Regions from separate parts of the Homo sapiens genome. Here region 2 is linked to region 1. The links come from fine-mapping of genetic effects on gene expression. A gene starts in region 1. The other region holds a variant in brackets. All regions are shown on one strand. Distances are from middle to middle.

What was found. PIP is the estimated chance that this variant, and not a neighbour inherited with it, causes the effect.
Region 2: its variant is fine-mapped to the expression of SORT1 in sun-exposed skin (GTEx, PIP above 0.99).

The regions. Positions count from the first base shown.
Region 1 is chr1:109,396,248-109,399,147 of GRCh38, forward strand. SORT1 (sortilin 1) reads right to left here and starts at 1,671. Exons shown (of 20, transcript NM_002959.7): 1 at 1,340-1,671. The coding sequence starts at 1,645. PSMA5 (proteasome 20S subunit alpha 5) reads right to left here. Exons shown (of 9, transcript NM_002790.4): 9 at 2,795-2,900. RefSeq lists silencers at 1,448-1,547, 1,558-1,627, 1,668-1,797 and an enhancer at 1,824-2,805.
Region 2 is chr1:109,272,784-109,275,683 of GRCh38, forward strand. It overlaps CELSR2 (cadherin EGF LAG seven-pass G-type receptor 2), which reads left to right. Exons shown (of 34, transcript NM_001408.3): 31 at 50-244; 32 at 383-553; 33 at 653-887; 34 at 1,239-2,900. The coding sequence ends at 1,266. Among named protein-coding and RNA genes, the nearest start is that of PSRC1, 8.9 kb to the right of the region's middle. RefSeq lists an enhancer at 1,469-2,900 and cis regulatory regions at 2,181-2,200, 2,185. The variant T/TC (reference allele first, on the strand shown) is at 1,458.

The DNA of each region.
Region 1 (2,900 bases):
TCAACCAGCGAGAGAAGAATTTGAAATATGGAGCAAGAATGCTGTGACCAGCTAGCTCAAGGAAGGAAGTGGTCCAGTATAAATTAAGCATTAGTGTTGTAAAGCCTTTCTCAATCCCCCACTGTGAGAAGGAAGTCTATTCGATTTTTTTTTCTCATCAAGTAGGAAGACTTCCCAGTACTCATTCTACCCAACCTGTCTCACCCTCCAGCACTAGCTTGGCTACCTTTACACAGCTGCTGCTCGGGATACACTAAGCACAATTATTCCTGAATATTTGTGTCTTGTGTCCTCAGATCAGAGAATTCTATTACAGGTAACAAGTATGGTCCAGATAACCAGGCAGTCCAAAGGGAGACTGAGGCTTGGCTGACGCTGAAAAACGGTTACAGAAGGACAAGTGCTGGCACAGAGCCTTGGCCACCCATCTCTGCCCCCAAGTGCAATTCATTTTCTTTGAAAGAGGAAAACAGGCAAGGGAGAAAATATATAGAATTGAAAATACATTATGCAAATGTGGCTAGCAAGGATTAAATTGTTAATTTTAGAGAAATAGGAGAAAGATGCCCAAGTTGTGCTGAAGCAAGGAACCAGGACTTTCTTAATAATTAGTTTTGTCAGTCCAGTAGTGTGCAAAGGTTGAGCTGCTTGTCCCCAGGGACAGAAATCCCATAATTTTGAAAGTCTTTTGACCAAGAGCTGGCTCAAAGCAGAATATGTGCAATGCGTTTCTTAACTATTGAAAATCTTGTCACCACGGGATATAGACATGCTAGTCAGACTTCCGTACCATGACAGAAGGTCAAATCTGAAGCAGTAAAAGAGATCACATAAATATTGCCATCTCATTTCCAAGCTAGTCCCCTTAACTATTAAAACACGGTGACCAGATCGCTGCTTCGGGCCTCCTGAACTCCCGCCTCTCCCACCCGGAAAGTACTGACCCAGAGAGGACACACCTTTGCTTCTGCGCAGCCCAACTTCTGCAAGCGCTCAAGAGTTAATTACTCCTTCACCTTCCTGGGGCCTAACAGCGTTACTGGGTCCTGATTATTTATACAGACGAAAAACGATGTTCAAGAGATTTTGACAACTTAAAAAAAAAAAAAAGAATGCGGTGGAAGTCTAAGATTGCCTCCCCTATGACAAAACACAGCCCCGCCGGCCGCCCGGGCCCGACTCCGCCCGCCCGCCCGCCGCAGTTTCGGGGCTGCGGCCCGGGGGACGCGGGCGCGGCAGGGCTGGGGTCTCCTCCGGGAGTCGCGGGGCGCACGGGCCGGGAGGGGCACGCGGGCGGCACCTCGCACCCGAGCGGCTCCCGGGCCCGGCGCCCGCTCACCTGGTGCGTGTTGTTGGCCAGCTTGGCGACGAAGTCCCGGACCCGGCCGCACTCCTCGTCCTCGCCCGGCGCGCTGCGACGCCAACGGCCGCCGCGGGGAAACGCGCCCCCGGCTGCGGCCGCCCGCAGCCCCCAGCTCACCCCGATGGGGCCAGACCAGCGCGGCAGCGGCGCAGCGGGCGGCGGCGGCGCGTCCAGCCGGTCCTGGCTGAGGGTCGACGGCGGCAGCAGCTGCAGGAGGAGGAGGAGGCCGAGGCCATGGGGCCAGCGCGAGAGGCCGTCCGCAGCTCCCCAGGGCCGCTCCATCGCCGCCGAATGCCGCCGACGCCGACACCTGCCGCCCGGCGCGCCCGCCCACCCCCGCCGGCGCGCGCCACACCCCCGAGCCGAGCGCGGCGCTCCTTGGATACGCGCGGCCGGGCCTCTCCGCCCCATAGGCTGGCCGCCTGTCCCTCTTCCCCGGCCCACTCCTCATTGGCTCGCGTCGCCTCCGGCTTCGGGGGTCCTGGATTCGGATGCTAAGATGCGGGACTGATTGGCTGGAACGGGGCAGAGACTGCTGAGGTCAACCCCGCCTCGCCCGGCGTCTCCCGGGCCCGGCTTGTGGAGTTCACGTAGGAGCTTCTCATACCTTCCCGCCGAGCCCCGGGCTCCTGGCGTCGCGACCCCTTGCCGCACCTCTAGCGCCCTCAAGTTGGGGCTGGGTTACGTCCCTCCTGTTCCCCAGAGACACTCCTAAAATTCCTTCGGTGAGGCAGAGCCTGGAAAAACCTACCCAGGAAATCCCTGAGCTTGCTCAGCTGGAAAAGGGGGCTCCATCATGAACCGGGGCTTCGGGTTTTTATAAACCCCGCTCACTGGAGCGCCCATTGTCTGCTAAGCAGCTGCCTTGCTGCAAGAAGGTGAATGCGAACTGATGTGGGCCACATCCTACGGAGACAGACATCAGGACATCCGTGACTCCTGCAAGCCTGAAGAATAGTCTTTCCATACGTTTGGCCTCTCTCACCTTCCTCTTCTGAGGGGAGGTAGGCCAAAGGCGGAATTACTTACAGGTTTTCCAGGACTTCGAATGTAGCTTAGGCATTAGGGGCAGGTAAAAGAGGGGCAAGAGAATGATCCAATGCCTACTGTACACATGATCATTTCCTAGATGCACATTTATTTTACCAAAGTGCCTTAACTCTGCAGTGAGAGCTTCGGACAAGTTTGGTTCCAGTATGTGATGTCCTCTAAATTAGCACCCCGATCCACCTCTAATGAATAAAATAAAACCCCTACGCTGTTCCCTTTACCGCAGAAGCTGCACACACAACTTCTACAACACGTAGCACAGGTAAAACCAGTTCTGAATCCTTAAGCTTACTGACTCCATCCCTTCAGAAAGCTAGAAATTGTTCAGTAGAAAAGGTAGCAAATAGAAAGATACAAAATATGCAAGTCATTACACTCAAAGCAAGTAAAGATTACTTTTAATTATAAACTGGCCATAAACCCAAATGAGGATATAGTCATTGTAGAGCAAAATGATACAATGCACCCAACCCGATATTTACATTAA
Region 2 (2,900 bases), 120 kb before region 1:
GGTGGGTGGAGGTGGCTGGGCTGGCTGTGATCTCTCCCTGGCCTCCTAGATCCTGACACGGACTCCGACAGTGACCTGTCCTTAGAAGACGACCAGAGTGGCTCCTATGCCTCTACCCACTCATCAGACAGTGAGGAGGAAGAAGAGGAGGAGGAAGAGGAGGCCGCCTTCCCTGGAGAGCAGGGCTGGGATAGCCTGCTGGGGCCTGGAGCAGAGAGACTGCCCCTGCACAGTACTCCCAAGGGTGGGCCAGCACTGGGGCTGTGGCCTTTGGGGCCAGTGGGAGGACAGTGGGCCTGGGGTTCTTGGGAAGCAGGACTGGGGTGGTGGCCTCCTGGCTATCTGCCCTCTGTGGGCCTCATCTACTTCCTTTCCCCACCAGATGGGGGCCCAGGGCCTGGCAAGGCCCCCTGGCCAGGAGACTTTGGGACCACAGCAAAAGAGAGTAGTGGCAACGGGGCCCCTGAGGAGCGGCTGCGGGAGAATGGAGATGCCCTGTCTCGAGAGGGGTCCCTAGGCCCCCTTCCAGGCTCTTCTGCCCAGCCTCACAAAGGTGAGTGGGGCACCCCCAGCTGCCGAGCTCCCCTAGTCAGCAGCCTCATACCTCACATTCTCCTGTGGCCGCACCTCACAGCCCCGCCCCGGCCCACAGGCATCCTTAAGAAGAAGTGTCTGCCCACCATCAGCGAGAAGAGCAGCCTCCTGCGGCTCCCCCTGGAGCAATGCACAGGGTCTTCCCGGGGCTCCTCCGCTAGTGAGGGCAGCCGGGGAGGCCCCCCTCCCCGCCCACCGCCCCGGCAGAGCCTCCAGGAGCAGCTGAACGGGGTCATGCCCATCGCCATGAGCATCAAGGCAGGCACGGTGGATGAGGACTCGTCAGGCTCCGAGTGAGTGTGGCCGGGTGGGCGGGACGGGGTGCAGCCCCTCGGAGGCCTCACCTGGGCCCAGAGCTGCCTCCGGGCCTCCCCAGGTGACTCTGGATGGCATTTGGAGGACAAATGGGCAGAACTGGCCCAGCTCCCTTACTATGCCGTGCCCACAAACCATGGTGCCTTGCGGGGAGGGCCACCCCTCCTAGGCTCTACGCGGCGCAGCCCAGCCTAGGGCAGAGTGCGGGAGGATGGGGAGCTGGGGGTGCTTTCCTGTTTCCTTCGTCTGGTGAAAGCTTTCACTCTCTCCTCTGTTTCAACTAACCCTCTGTCTGCCTTTTCTGCCACTTTCCTTTCCTGCCTCTCCAGATTTCTCTTCTTTAACTTCCTGCATTAACCCTGGGCCGTGGTTCCTACGCCCGAGGCTCCCTTCCCTTCCCCAGCCGCACTCATGCCCTGCTCCTGTCTTGTGCTTTATCCTGCCCCGCTCCCCATCGCCTGCCCGCAGCAGCGACGAAACGTCCATCTGAGGAGCCTGGGCCTTGCCGGGAGGGGTACTCACCCCACCTAAGGCCATCTAGTGCCAAC[T/TC]CCCCCCCCACCATTCCCCTCACTGCACTTTGGACCCCTGGGGCCAACATCTCCAAGACAAAGTTTTTCAGAAAAGAGGAAAAAAAGAATTTAAAAAAGGATCTCCACTCTTCATGACTTCAGGGATTCATTTTTTTTATACGCTGGAAATTGACTCCCCTTTCCCTTCCCAAAGAGGATAGGACCTCCCAGGATGCTTCCCAGCCTCTCCTCAGTTTCCCATCTGCTGTGCCTCTGGGAGGAGAGGGACTCCTGGGGGGCCTGCCCCTCATACGCCATCACCAAAAGGAAAGGACAAAGCCACACGCAGCCAGGGCTTCACACCCTTCAGGCTGCACCCGGGCAGGCCTCAGAACGGTGAGGGGCCAGGGCAAAGGGTGTGCCTCGTCCTGCCCGCACTGCCTCTCCCAGGAACTGGAAAAGCCCTGTCCGGTGAGGGGGCAGAAGGACTCAGCGCCCCTGGACCCCCAAATGCTGCATGAACACATTTTCAGGGGAGCCTGTGCCCCCAGGCGGGGGTCGGGCAGCCCCAGCCCCTCTCCTTTTCCTGGACTCTGGCCGTGCGCGGCAGCCCAGGTGTTTGCTCAGTTGCTGACCCAAAAGTGCTTCATTTTTCGTGCCCGCCCCGCGCCCCGGGCAGGCCAGTCATGTGTTAAGTTGCGCTTCTTTGCTGTGATGTGGGTGGGGGAGGAAGAGTAAACACAGTGCTGGCTCGGCTGCCCTGAGGGTGCTCAATCAAGCACAGGTTTCAAGTCTGGGTTCTGGTGTCCACTCACCCACCCCACCCCCCAAAATCAGACAAATGCTACTTTGTCTAACCTGCTGTGGCCTCTGAGACATGTTCTATTTTTAACCCCTTCTTGGAATTGGCTCTCTTCTTCAAAGGACCAGGTCCTGTTCCTCTTTCTCCCCGACTCCACCCCAGCTCCCTGTGAAGAGAGAGTTAATATATTTGTTTTATTTATTTGCTTTTTGTGTTGGGATGGGTTCGTGTCCAGTCCCGGGGGTCTGATATGGCCATCACAGGCTGGGTGTTCCCAGCAGCCCTGGCTTGGGGGCTTGACGCCCTTCCCCTTGCCCCAGGCCATCATCTCCCCACCTCTCCTCCCCTCTCCTCAGTTTTGCCGACTGCTTTTCATCTGAGTCACCATTTACTCCAAGCATGTATTCCAGACTTGTCACTGACTTTCCTTCTGGAGCAGGTGGCTAGAAAAAGAGGCTGTGGGCAGGAAAGAAAGGCTCCTGTTTCTCATTTGTGAGGCCAGCCTCTGGCTTTTCTGCCGTGGATTCTCCCCCGTCTTCTCCCCTCAGCAATTCCTGCAAAGGGTTAAAAATTTAACTGGTTTTTACTACTGATGACTTGATTTAAAAAAAATACAAAGATGCTGGATGCTAACTTGGTACTAACCATCAGATTGTACAGTTTGGTTGTTGCTGTAAATA